Linked DNA regions of Homo sapiens. The protein of the gene in region 3 interacts with the protein of the main gene of each other region in a biochemical or structural test. Each region holds a gene or a part of one and is shown on either strand. Other genes may lie near its edges.

The links.
Region 1: the proteins of UBE2L3 (region 3) and AREL1 form a complex in vitro, tested with the Homo sapiens proteins (4 studies listed by BioGRID).
Region 2: the proteins of UBE2L3 (region 3) and HERC3 form a complex in vitro, tested with the Homo sapiens proteins (3 studies listed by BioGRID).
Region 4: the proteins of UBE2L3 (region 3) and ARIH1 form a complex in vitro, tested with the Homo sapiens proteins (18 studies listed by BioGRID and IntAct, with this or other methods).

Annotation. Positions count from the first base shown.
Region 1 is NC_000014.9:74,678,432-74,682,202, reverse strand, and holds part of AREL1 (apoptosis-resistant E3 ubiquitin protein ligase 1), read left to right. Parts: intron 1-3,771. UniProt on the Homo sapiens protein: E3 ubiquitin-protein ligase that catalyzes 'Lys-11'- or 'Lys-33'-linked polyubiquitin chains, with some preference for 'Lys-33' linkages.
Region 2 is NC_000004.12:88,651,358-88,655,128, forward strand, and holds part of HERC3 (probable E3 ubiquitin-protein ligase HERC3), read left to right. Parts: intron 1-654; coding exon 655-731; intron 732-1,511; coding exon 1,512-1,733; intron 1,734-2,684; coding exon 2,685-2,776; intron 2,777-3,771. UniProt on the Homo sapiens protein: E3 ubiquitin-protein ligase which accepts ubiquitin from an E2 ubiquitin-conjugating enzyme in the form of a thioester and then directly transfers the ubiquitin to targeted substrates.
Region 3 is NC_000022.11:21,619,586-21,622,266, reverse strand, and holds part of UBE2L3 (ubiquitin-conjugating enzyme E2 L3), read right to left. Parts: intron 753-2,681; coding exon 598-752; 3' UTR 1-597. UniProt on the Homo sapiens protein: Ubiquitin-conjugating enzyme E2 that specifically acts with HECT-type and RBR family E3 ubiquitin-protein ligases.
Region 4 is NC_000015.10:72,596,208-72,599,978, reverse strand, and holds part of ARIH1 (E3 ubiquitin-protein ligase ARIH1), read right to left. Parts: 3' UTR 1-3,771. UniProt on the Homo sapiens protein: E3 ubiquitin-protein ligase, which catalyzes ubiquitination of target proteins together with ubiquitin-conjugating enzyme E2 UBE2L3.

The DNA.
Region 1 (3,771 bases), on a different chromosome or scaffold from region 3:
TAAGGCTCTGGACAAAGTGGCTCTCAAGCCGTCTCTCTTTCCATGTATCCTCTCCTTTGCTTAAGTGCCTCACTCAGATACTCCTTTTCATATGAATTATCATCACCCACCTCTTTGCCACCAGTGGAGAACAGCTCATACCCTTACATGTACCAGCCTTTTTAAAAAAATTAAACTTTTTATTTTTTGATAATTGTATATTCATATGCATTTGTAAGAAATAATGCAGAGATCTGGTGTACCCTTTTCCCAGTTTCCTGCAATGGTAACATTTTCCAAAACTACTAGTACAGTATAACAGCCAGGTTATTGACATTGATACAGTCAAGGTACAGAACATTTCCATCATCACAAGGATCCCTTATGTTGCCCTTTTACAGCCACACCTATCCCCCCCAACCTGTTTCTTTCTTTTTTTTTTTTTCTTTTTTTTTTTGATGGCGTCTCGCCCTGTCGCCAGGCTGGAGTGTAGTGGTGCCATCTTGGCTCACTGCAACCTCCAACTCCCTGGTTCAGTGGATTCTCCTGCCTCACGCTGAGTAGCTGGGATTACAGGCACGTGCCACCACGCCCAGCTAATTTTTGTATTTTTAGTAGAGACAAGATTTCACCATGTTGGCCAGGATGGTCTCGATCTCCTGACCTCATGATCCGCTCGCCTCAGCCTCCCAAAGTGCTGGGATTACAGGCATGAGCCACCGTACCTGCCCCCCATCCCCAACCTGTTCTTAACCCCTGGCAACCCACGAATCTATTCCCCATTTCTATAATTTTGTCATTTGAAGAATATTATATAACTAGAATCATATAGTATATAACCTGTTGGGGTTGACTTTTCCTCACTCAGCATAATTTTCTGGAGATTCATCCAGGTTACTGAGTGTATCAGTAGTTGGTTCCTTTTTACTGCTGAGTAGTACAGGTTGAGTATTCTTCATCCAAAATGCTTGGGACCAGATGTGTGGTTTTGTGGTTTTTTTCTCTCCAAACGTGGTATAGGAATGTTTTGTTGTTTTTGAGACAGGGCCTTGCTCTGTCACCTAGGCTGGAATGCAGTGGCAGGATCATGGCTCACTGTAGCCTTGACCTGTTGGGCCCAAGCAATCCTTCCACCTCAGCCTCCCAAGTAGCTGGGACTACAAGTGTGCACCACCACGCTCGGTTAATTTTTTGATTTTTTGTTTTGTAGAGACAGTCTCATTATGTTAACCAAGCTGGTTTCTAACTCCTGGCCTCAAGCAATCCTCCTGCCTTGGCCTCCCAAGGTGCTGGGATTACAGGCATGAGCCACTATGTCTGCCTAGAAGTGTCTTGGATTTTGGATTTTTGGGGGTTTTGGAATATTGGCAATATACTTACTTACCACTTCAGCACCCTAGGCCAAAAATCTGAAACCCTAAATGCTTCAGTGAGCATTTCCTTTGAGTATCATGTAGGTACCCAAAATGTTTTGGATTTTGGAGCATTTTGGATTTCTGGTTTTTGGATTAGGGATTCTCTACGTATATTCTGTGGTCTGAATGTACCAGTTTGTTTAACTATTCATCTGTTAAAGGTCATCTGGGTTGTTTCCATTTGGGGGCTATGATGAATAAAGCTGCTATAAATATTCACTTACAGGTTTTTATGTGAACATAAATTTTCATTTCTCTAGTATGCAGTTGCTGAGATGTATTGGAGTTGTATGCTTAGTTTCTTTTAAATTGCCAAATTCTTTTCCAGAGTGGCTGTAGCATTTTACATTCCCACCAGCAATGTATGAATAATCCAGTTTCTTCACATCCTTGCTAACATTTAATGCTGTCATTATTTTTTATTTTAGCCATTGTGATAAGTGTGTAGTGGTATCTCATTGTGCTTTTAATTTGCATTTCTTAAATAGTTAATGCTATTGAACATCTTTTCATGTGCCTGTCTGTCATCTATGTATCCTTTGGTGAAATGTCTCTTCGTGTCTTTTGTCCATTTTCTTTTCTTTTCTTTTCTCTTTTCTTTTCTTTTCTTTCTTTCTTTTTTTCTTTTTTTTTTAGACATCCTTGCTCTTGCCCAGGCTGGTGTACAGTGGTGCTACCTTGACTCACTGCAACCAACCTCCTCTTCCCAGGTTCTGGCAATTCTCCTGTGTCAGCCTCCTGAGTAGCTGGGATTACAGGCAGGCACCACCACGCCTGGCTAATTTTTGTATATTTTGTAGAGACAGAGTTTTGCCATGTTGGCCAGGCAGGTCTCGAAATCCTGAGCTCAAGTGATCCACCCCCTTGGCCCCAAAAAGTGCTGGGATTACAGGCGTGAGCCACCACACCTGGCCCTTTTGCCCATTATCTAATGGGATTATTATTATTTATTTATTTATTTATTATTATTTTCTTTTTTTTGAGATGGAGTCTCGTTCTGACGCCCAAGCTAGAGTGCAATGGCACAATCTCAGCTCACTGCGACCTCCGCCTCCCATGTTCAAGCAATTCTCCTGCCTCAGCCTCCCAAGTAGCTGGGATTACAGGCATCTGCTATCATGCCTGGCTAGTTTTTTGTGTTTTTAGTAGAGATGGGGTTTTGCCCTGTTAGACAGGCTGGTCTCAAACTCCTGACCTCGGGTGATCCATCCACCTTGGCCTCCCAAAGTGCTAGGATTACAGGCATGAACCACCGTGCCCGGCCCATTTTGGCTTTTTACTGTTGACTTTTGAGAGTTCTGTATATATTCTATATGCTAGTCCTTTGTTAAACATATGGTCTGCAAATATTTTCTCCCCATCTGTAGCTTTTCTTTATTTCTTTTTGGAGACAGGGTATCACTCTGTCACCCATGATGGCGTGCAGTAGCATAGTCATGGCTCACTGCAGCCTTGACCTCTCCCGGCTTAGGTGATCTCCCATCTCAGCCTCCCAAGTTGCTGGGACTGTGGCATGTGCCACCACACCTGGCTAATTTTTATATTTTTTGTAGAGATGGGGCTTTGCCATGTTGCTCAGGCTGAGCTTTTCTTCTTATTCCCTTAACAGAGTTATTCACAGAGCACATGTTTTCAATTTTGATGAAATCCACTTTCTGAGGTGGGAGAATCACTTGAGCCCAGGAGTTCAAGACCGGCCTGGGCAACATAGTGAGACCTCATCTCTACAAAAAATTTATAAATTAGCTGGGTGTGGTGGCGTGCACCTTTAGTCCCAGCTACTGGGGAGTAGGGTGGAGAAGTGAGGTGGTAGGATAACAAGCCCAGGAGGTTGAGGCTGCAGTGAGCTGTGATCTTGCCACTACACTCCAGCCTGGGTGACAAAGTGAGACCCTGTCTCAAAAAAGAAAGAAAGAAATCCAGTGCATCCATTTTTTTCTTTTATGGTCAAACTGTTGGTGTCTAAGAAATCTTTGGTCTCAGATCCTGAAGATGTTCTCTTTTTTTCCCAAAAGTTTTTACAGTTTGAAAATGTGTATTTAGGGTCATGATCCATTTTTAGTTAATTTTAATAGATTTGGGTCAAGGTCCTCTTTTTTTTTTTTTTTTTTTTGCTTATACATGTCTTTACTCCAGCATCATTTGTTGGAAAGGTGATCTTTCATTTTCTATTACATTGCTTTTGTACCTTTATCAAAAAGCAGTTGGACATATTTGTGGGGGCTTATTTCATTAATCTGTGTACCTATCCCTCCTCCAGTACCACAGAATCTTGATTTCTGTAGCTCCCTCTTCTTTTCTTTTTTTTTTTTGAGGCAGGGTCTCACTCTGTCACCCAGGCTGAGTGCAGTGGTGCGATCATGATTCACTGCAGCCT
Region 2 (3,771 bases), on a different chromosome or scaffold from region 3:
GTATTGTGGAAAGTAACATAGCTTTGATGTCAAACAAGCCTTGGATTCCAATACTGGCTCTTTTACTTGTAAGGTGAATGACCTTGGGCAGGTTAACTTTTCTAAGCCTCAGTTTCCTAACTTAAAAATTACTTACTATGTACCTTACAGGGTTATGGGGAGGATAGAAGGAGACAAGTAGGTAAAATACAGTATGTGCTTGCACTGTATGGACTCCCTCTTCCCCACCTCAAGGGTACAATTTCTCTATTATCTGTCTTTGTTCTTCTGACCTGCTTCTTTTCTACAACTGATTGTGACAAGAGTAATGGTGATGGGGAATTGTTGAAGCAATTCTCTGCCTCAGCCTCCCGAGTAGCTGGGATTACAGGCATGTGCCACAACGCCCGGCTGATTTTTTTTGTATTTTTAGTAGAGATGGGGTTTCATCATATTGGCCAGGCTGGTCTCGAACTCCTGACCTCAGGTGATAAGCCCACCTTGGCCTCCCAAAGTGCTGAGATTACAGGCGTGAACCACTGTGCCTGGCCTTAAAAAGACTTTTAGGCAAGATGGTGTTATTTATTACTGACATTTTATTTAATTGGGAATATTTCTGATAATTGTGTTTGTGTGTGAATATCTATCTGAAAAAGAAAGCCTTTTCTGTTTTAGGTTAATACAAAAGCTGAACCAGCAAACAATATTACAAGTTTCCTGTGGCAACTGGCATTGCTTGGCTCTTGCGGCTGGTAAAGTAACATTAAACATATGCTAATGCTATGTTAATTTTGAAAACATTTCTCTTTGTCTTTTTGTGTGATATTATCTAACTGAAAACTTTGAATTAACTGGTTAGGGTCTATGCATTGCTGTTGGACAGTGACAATTCTCATATGGGCTTTGCATAGCTCATCCTTTTCTCAGGGTGTGGGTGATGAAGTAGGTGGTCATCATTGCTGCTCCAACTTTCACAGGGGAAGATAAGCAGGGGGCAGGACCATACCTAGGTGTTCTGAGCATGGAGGAGATTGATTTTTCTTAGCGACAGCCAACTCTCAAGCTACATTCCACTATCAAGCTCCCAAATGAATGAAAAAGAAGGAGTTGGAGAAACCTAAATAAATCTGCACTTCTGTGTCCTGCTTGATTATCTGCAGAGCAGACCAAGTGGTCATTGCTGGACCTCCCGAAGTCTTGGGTCTCATAGTCTTAGTGTGGTCAGAACTAGTGTGATCTTGCTTAAGCCTGGTAATTGGCCTGTCCGAAATTGAATTTACTTATACATTTAATATTTTCTGTGTATAAATTTTAATAGCCTTTGAAGGGCAGTAAGACTCAGCTTACCTCTCTGTTATATCACTTGGGAGTTTTGGTTTTGGCAGTCTGATAGCATGAAGTATCTCTGTTCCTTTGCTCTTGGGTGGGTTTGGTGTTGGGGGGCAACTGGCAAATGACCCTAATAACTAGATTATTTTTGTGTGTGGAGCTTGTATCATTTTATGGTAATACCAGTTATCCTGTTATTTCAGATGGCCAGTTCTTCACCTGGGGAAAGAACAGCCATGGGCAGCTTGGCTTAGGGAAGGAGTTCCCCTCCCAAGCCAGCCCACAGAGGGTGAGGTCCCTGGAGGGGATCCCACTGGCTCAGGTGGCTGCCGGAGGGGCTCACAGCTTTGCCCTGTCTCTCTCAGGAGCTGTTTTTGGCTGGGGGATGAATAATGCCGGGCAGCTAGGGCTCAGTGATGAAAAAGGTAGGTAAACCCTTCATATGTATGTATTTAGTTTAAAAGCACATTCATTTAACACATGCTTCTTGAGGATCTACTATGTGCTAGCCCCATGTGAGATACTAAGGGAGAAGCAGTGAACACAATAGAGAACATCCTCGTCTTAGTGGAGACTGTATTCTAGTGAGTAGAGGTGCAACAAAACCAGTAAATACACAGGATTTGAGAGTGCAGCTTCCTGCTTTACATAAGGTGGTGGGGAAGGGCCCCTCTGATAAGAAAATGTTTGAGCAGAACCTGTAGGAAATCAGGTGGGAGATGGGACATGTAAATGTCTGGGTGAAAAATGTTCCTGTCAGAGAGAACTGGGTGTGCAAAGGTGCTCATGTGGGAAGAGATGTAGTTGGAGAGAAGGGGAAGAGTAGCACAGCTGCAGGTCAGAGAAGTCGTGTAGACCCAGTTATGCAGGGCCCTGAGGGGCAGGGTGAGGATATAACTGGTTTTCTCAGTGAGAGGGGAAGACCCTGAGGGTTTGGAGGAGAAGCGTGATCCACTTTGGCTTTGGCTGTAGTGGGTCAAGGGGGAAGCTGGAAGACCAGCTTGGAGGTTGTGGGAGTAAAGTCAGATTTTAAACATATTTTGAAGATGAGGCCAGTTGGTTTTGTTCACTGTTGGATGTGTGGTTTGAAATAAAGGAACAGCTGGAAGGGCAAAATGACTGTTTCTGAAATGGGGAAAACCGTGTGTAGTAAAGTGAGCTGGAGAGTGGGCAGGGTTGGAGAGTGTAGGGAAACCATGAGGTAGGTTTTAGGTAAATTAAAACTGAGAAGTCTGTTGGATATCCAAGTACAGATGCAGGCAGGAAACTGAACATGCGTCAGGAATCCAGGAATCCAAAATTCATGCCAAGATAGTTGTGTATATTTCATCTCAAAGGCAAATGGTAGTGATATTCTGATATTTAATTTATTCTAGATCGAGAATCTCCATGCCATGTAAAACTCTTACGCACGCAAAAAGTTGTCTATATTAGTTGTGGAGAAGAACACACAGCAGTTCTCACAAAGGTAAGGAGCTCAGAGTATTTTACTTTGGTGCTGGGGATATGATGGGTGATTAGAATTGCTTGATTATGTTAGTGTAGTGATGGTGTGTGATTACAGTATTGTGGCTTGAACTTGAATGCTCTCTTTTATGTGGGTTTGTTGTTTTCCAAAGGAATAGAAAAAGACTACTTTTTTGTATGTCTCTGTTATCCTCTTTGGTAATCTTGTAGATTTTTCATATATATATATATATATATATATATATATATATATATACACACACACACATAATGTAGATTATATATATATACACACATATAATGTAGATTATATAAAAATGTAGATTATATATATAAATATAATGTATATATTTATATATATATAAATTCCTTGGTTCTTTATGGAACAAAGACAGCACTTTGTTATTTTTATTTGTTATTTTATGTATATATAATATATATAAAATGATGTCCTATGTTCCTTTAAAACAAGTCATTTAAATATGTAAAAAAGAAACAGCAATTTAATTAATGTTTTAAAATAATCATGTTTCTTTTGCTTCTAAATACATTCTAGAGAGAATGAAAATGTATTTTTATATTGAACAAATATTATTCTACGTTCACTTTGATAAAATGCCTTAACATTTATTTAAATACAGCTGTTAAAAAAACAGCTTACTTACCAAGGAATTTGTAGAGCACCTAATTTCTTACATGTGAATGATCATGTAAAATCATCTCATTTAGCCTAGCTCCTAGTTTCTCCTTTTTTAAAATTTTGCTTCCTAACACATCATTGTACTTTCAAACGATTTTAAAAATTTACAGAAGGCACACATTCCTTTGAGCATTGCTATCTTTGTTCCATAAAGATGCAGTCTGAAATTCCCTTTTTATTATTTTTCTATTTAATGAACATCCTTACAAAGTGATTTTGGCCAAGTGTCAAGTGAATGTAGTGCTCTTGTGCACATTGTTGTGATAGGCATTTTGTATACAGGGTTTAGAGGTATA
Region 3 (2,681 bases):
AAGGACTGGAGGAGGGGTGTGGCTGTTTGTTTTTAAATTTTTTAAAAGGATGTTATAAACTGGAGTCAGGAGAATTTAAACCAACTCCCACACTGGGCAACAGTGCCACACATGCTAAGAAAAGCCACCAGGACCGCCAGGGCAGTCTCTTCTCCTTTGTGGAGGCGAGCCCGGGGTCTGGGGAAGTAAGTAAGTGAAAAATAAACTCGGTGCCAGAAAGTGGGAGTGGCAAGGGTAGGGAAGAAAGGGAACCACAACCGTTTTTTTTCCTTTTTTTTAAACCTTATGGGTTAAATGTAACTTGAAGATTTTGGATAAAATTGGACAAGAAAAGAAACACCATTCTTTTGAAGTAGATTGAAGCAGTGATTTTTAAAACAAAGAGAGCAGAACTAGAACATCTTAAATTTTTAATCCTTTCTTTACAGGTTACCTAGACCACTTTTGATTAAGAAAACTGTAGAAAGTTAGTAACTGCCACAAGCGAACGCCAGGCGGTGGCACGTGTCAATTTCCACAGAGTCCTGCTTTGCGGGGTGTCTGAATGCACTGCACGGGGTCTCTGCTCACACTTGCTGGAACCAATCGTGGCAGATTTTAGTCCACAGGTCGCTTTTCCCCATATTTCTTTGTAAACTCTTCAGCATTCTTACAGAATTTTTTACGGTCCTTAGAGTATTCTTCAGCTAGGTCAGCCCGAAGCGGGTGCTCAGGCTGGGGGTCATTCACCAGTGCTATGAGGGACTGGATTACTGCCAAGAGAAGGACAAGGCATGGGGGGTTAACACAGTCTCAGAAATGGCACAGGCAAGAGGCAGCTAATCCGGGAACAAAACTCTGGCTTTACAACTGATTTACAGCTAATGTGCTTTTAAGCCAAAGCTGCCTCCTATTTATCCAAAATTCTGACTGCCAGAAAACTCATCTTTCCTCTGTGATTAGAAGACACTGATGGACAACAAATAGCTAACACTACAGTGGATAATTGTTCACAGTGATGTGCTTCCGCCTCCAGGAAGCCTTCCTGACCTAACACCTGGGGAGGTCTTAGCCCTCAGTCACTCCCAGCCCTTTTTTCTTGGCGGGGGGTTGGGGAGGAGGGACAGGGTCTCACTCTGTCACCTAGGCTGCAGTGCAGTGGCACCATCTTGGCTCACTGCAGCCTCAACCTCCTGGGTTGACCTCAAGCAATCCTCCAGCCTCAGTCCCCCAAGTAGCCAGGACTACAGTCGTGCACCACCATGCCCGGCTAATCCAGTCCTCTTGTGTACTCTGGAGATAGGAGGCCTAGTATTGAACTGACTGCTCACTCTCATGCATGCACACAGGGTCACTTTCTTCAGGGCAGGACCGGGTAGAACTTCCCTGCATCAGCCCAGCACCCAGCACCATGCTCGGCTCAGGGAAGTTTCGGTTAAGGTGACTGAGTGGGCACTAGAGAGAAGGGTATGTGATGGCGCTGCACTTGTCAATGCGCAATGACCCAACTCTGGAAGACCCTTAGGAGTTTCTGAACCCTCTAGAAAGGGTCACTGGGGCCAGCCAATGGGAAGCTGACAACCGCCATCGCATCACATTGTCAAGACCACAGGCAGATGTCACGCTGATGGCTCTGATGGGTGCCACAGTACTCCCCCTAGGTGCCGTAGCCCAGACGTGCCCCAGGGTGGAAGGATAGTGGGGAATCAGAAGCAGCTGCTACCCACACCTCCTCACATACTTTGCCACAGTTGCCCCCTGACCCTGTCAGGACCAGCACCCTCAGAATGTTCCTTCCCACTGTAAAACAGTGCCCCTCTTCTCCGAACTGCTGATGCCACAAATTCCTTCTTATTTTTTTTAGACAGTCTTGCTGTCACTCAGACTGGAGTGCAGTGGCTCAATCATACTTTACTGCACGGTACCCTCAAACTCCTGGGTGTAAATGATCCTCCTGCCTCAGCTTCCTGAGTAGCTGAGACTACAAGCACATGCCATCACGTCCAGCTAATTTTTTTTTTTAACCTAGGCTAGAGTACAGTGGTGCAATCACAGCTCACTGCAGTCTTATCTCCTGGGCTCAAACAATCCTCCCACCTTGGCCTTGAGAGTAGTTGGGATTACGGGTGTTAGCCACTGCTCCTGGCCTAGTTTTTTGTAGAGATGGGGTCTCACTATGTTGCCCAGGCTGGTCTCAAACTCCTGGGCTTGAGTGATCCTACCGCCTCATCCTCCCAAAAGTGCTAGGATGACAGGCATGAAGCCACTGCACCTGGTCAATTCCTTTATTAAGGGCTCATATTGTTCATTCAGCATTACAAGAAATGGATTAAAATGCAAATGCTAGCCAGGCAGATCACCTGAGGTCAGGAGCTCAAGACCAGCCTGGGCAACATGGTGAAACCCCGTCTCTACTAAAAATACAAAAATTAGCCAGGCATGGTGGCCCATGCCTAGAGTCCCAGCTACTCAGGAGGCTGAGGCAGGAGAATCGCTTGAACCCGGGAGACGGCAGTTGCAGTGAGCCGAGATCGTGCCACTGCACTCTAGCTTGGGCAACAGAGCGAGACTCTGTCTCAAAAGTAAATAAATAAAACAAAATGCTGATGCTGGCTGAGTCATATGCAAAGGCATAATCATTCAACAGCACACATTAAGTGAGGGCCACAGCACAAAGTACTCCTGGCCTGGTGTCCAAAACC
Region 4 (3,771 bases), on a different chromosome or scaffold from region 3:
AGTCCAGCCAACACTGGGAAATATCACTTCAAAATAATATGAAGCTTCACTGGACTTCATGGAGGATTTTCAGTATGCCTATTCTTGATGCTACAGATATACTCAATAGCAATCAATGGTGAATGTGGACAAAGGCATAATACTGCATTGTTTGTGAGAAAAAATACTGGAAACATGGAAATGTCCATCACCAGTAACTGTTTAAATAAACTAAGATACATCCATATTAAGACATATTATGCAGCCTGTAAAAGTCCTCAGGTTGTTAAAATAGTTACATAAAACAAATAAAGTGTAGAAAATATAGTATGCTTCCATTCATGTTTAAAAAAATAATAAGGGGGAGGCCAGGTGCAGTAGCTCACGCCAGAACTATGAGAAGTCGAGGTAGGAGGCCAGGAGTTTGAGACCAGCCTAGGCAGCACAGTGAGACCCCTGTCTCTACAAAAAATAAAAAATAAAAGGAAGAGATATTGACACATTTTAGAAATACAGTTTGGAAAAGAAAACACAACCAACTGGTAAGATATTTGTCTCTGTGGAGGGAGTAGAGGCACTAGGGGAGTTAAGATGGGAAGGTGTTGCTTTTCTTTATGATTCTACAAAATTTAACTTTGTATTATCCATGTACTTTTACTTTTGAAAACAGTTAATGAGGCCAGGAGCGATGGCTCACACCTGTAATCCCAGCACTTTGGGAGGCTGAGGCGGGTGGATCAACTGAGGTCAGGAGTTGGAGACCAACCTGGCCAACATGGTGAAACCCTGTCTCTACTAAAAATACAAAAATTAGCTGGGTGTGGTGGCGGGCGCCTGTAATCCCAGCTACTCAGGAGGCTGAGTCACGAGAATCACGAGGCAGAGGTTGCAATGAGCCTAGATCGTGCCACTGCACTCCAGCCTGGGCAACAGAGCCAGACTCTGTCTCAAAAAAGAAAAAAATACTAGCTAATGAAATATGTAAATAAAACCATTGTTTAAACTCCCATTCCTAACCAGGCATGGTGGCTCATGCCTTTAATCCCAGCACTTTGGAAAACCAAGGTGGGAGGATCACAGGCAACATAGCGAGACCCAAACTCTACAAAAAAAAAAAAGCCAGGCATGGTGGCACATGACTGTGGTCCCAGCTACTCAAGAGGCTGAGGCAAGAGGATCACTTGAGCCCAGAAGGTCAAGCCAGCAGTGAGCTATGATCATGTCATGGCACTCAAGCCTGGGTGGCAGTGAGACGTGTTTAAAAAAAAATTTTTTTTTTTTTTTTTGAGAGGGAGTCTTGCTCTGTCACCCAGGCTGGAGTGCAGTGGCACAATCTCGGCTCACTGCAACCTCCGCCTCCCAGGTTCAAGCAAATCTCCTGACTCAGTCTCTCAAGTAGCTGGGATTACAGGCGCCCACCACCACACCTGGCTAATTTTAGTATTTTTAGTAGAGTTGGGGTTTCACTATGTTGGCCAGGCTGGTCTCAAACTCCTGATCTCAGGTGATCCACCTGCCTCGGCCTCCCAAAGTGCTGGGATTACAGGCATGAGACACTGTGCCTGACCTAAAAAAATTTTTTATTAAAAAAATAAACTCCTACTTCTGAAATTCACTAGTGATATGAACAAAGTCACAAGGAATATACCTCCCACTCTAGCAAACAACAACAAAAGGCCAGATGAGCTAGAAAATAAAACATATGTTTAATTCATCAGAAAGCTAAGGACACAAAGAAATCTAGGTTGGGTGCAGTGGTTTATGCCTGTAACCCCAGGACTTTGGGGTGCTGAGGCAGGCAGATCGCTTGAGCTCAGAAGTTTGAGATCAGCCTGGGCAACATGGTAAAACCCTATCTCAACAAAAAATACAAAAATTAGCCGGGTGTGGTGGTACACGCCTGTAGTCCCAGCTGCTCAGGAGGCTGAGGTGGGAGGATCAACTGAGCCAGGAAGGCAGAGGTTGTAGTGAGCTGAGATCACTACAGGCTGTACTCCAGGCTGGGTAAGAGTGAGACCCTGTCTCAAAATAAAAACAAAAACCAAAGAAACCTAAATGATCCAAACTCCAGAAAGTGCCAAGTCCTTCATAGGAGAGAAGAGACCCCCTAGCTGTTGTTATTCCTAGTTGAACTATGGTAGGAAGAGGAATACTACAGGGGGGAGAAAAGAGAAACCTGCTGAAATTTAACAACATTTTCACAACCCCTTGGAGGCTGGTTTGACATTAGAACCTAGATGACCCAAATCCACAGAGGAAGGCTTCCCACCAATCTTACCCCTTAGATGATAACCAGGTACAGGAAGGTGTAGTACACTAAAGGTGTGGATAATAGAAGGAACGCTGAGAGAGCTTGACTTCTCCCAAGGGCAAAATACCCTTTAAAAATGAAAGGGGAGGCAGGATTGTTGTGAAATCCAACAGAGGCACTCTTGGAGCCTAAATGGGGTCAGAAATGCTGAGAAACCCATCCCCTAGGCATTGTGGGCATTCCTCTACAAAAGGGCAGGGCACACATGAGAGCTGAGAAAGATCCTCCTATCCCCAGCCCATTGATTAAAAAAAAAAATCCTGGCAGCAAGGTTGTAAAGTAGGGAAAGATCTCCCACATTGATAAAAGCTGGTGGCTTAGCTATGAAGCAAAGTCAGATCTCTGGAATCTTGCCAATGCCCAAAACTCAGGCCCTGGTGATATGAGAGTTCTGATTCTACGTTCCTTCAAATATTTGAAGCTAGAGGCAAACTGAATCAAACTAAAACTGCAGTGAAGCCCCAGTCTAGAATTCATATACATCAGATTGAGCCACCATTCAAGTGGCCTGAAAAAAAAACAAAGGGCATGCTCTGTTTTGGAAGTAAACATTTTCTTCAATTTCTTTTTTTTTTCAACATAAAACGTCCATCATCCAATCAAATATACAAGACGTGCAAAAGCAAGAAAATAAGATTCATGGTAAGGGAGAGGAAGGGCTCAATAGAAGCAGAACTAGAAAAGACCCAGATGTTGAATTATCAGTTTGGATCCTTAAAATAACTGATTAAAAATGAAAGAAAAAACAGAAAAAACCCAATAAAATAACTGATTAAAATGCTAAAAAGTAGAATGGAAAATGTGGAAAACATGCATGAAGAAATAGGAAATTTCAGCAGAAAATTGTAACTATACAAATATAATGAAATGCTAGAAATAAAAATATTAGAAATGAATAATTCAGTACAACTATGTATCCATAAATAACTAAAAATAAAAATTTTTAAATGGAGAATTCAATAAACAAGTTTAACAGGTTAACATTGGAAAGCATCAAAAAACTTAAAGATGGTTAAATGGAAAGTATCCAAACTGAAAACAAAAAGAAAACAGGGCAGGGGAAAAATCATCTGAGATCTGTAGGTTTATATCAAATCATCTAATATACATGTAACTAGAATCTCCAAAGAAGAGGAGAAGCAAGAGAGTATGAGACAAGAGAAAAATGTAAACGGATAACGGCCAAGAAAGAACCAATATTAATGAAAGACATCAACACAGATCCAAGAAGTTCAGTAAACTCTATACAAAGAAAAACATACCTAGACATTCCCTAGTCAATCTACTGAAAAGTAAATATAATGCACAGATGCAGCCATTGAGAACAACCACACATTACGGAAAGGAAATAAAAATTAAAATGATGAATGACTTCTCACCAGAAACAAATGAGGCCTGAGTACAATAAAATAACTTCTTTAAAGTACTGAAAGAAGAAATAAAAGGTCAACATAGAGTCCTATATCCAACTAAAATACCCC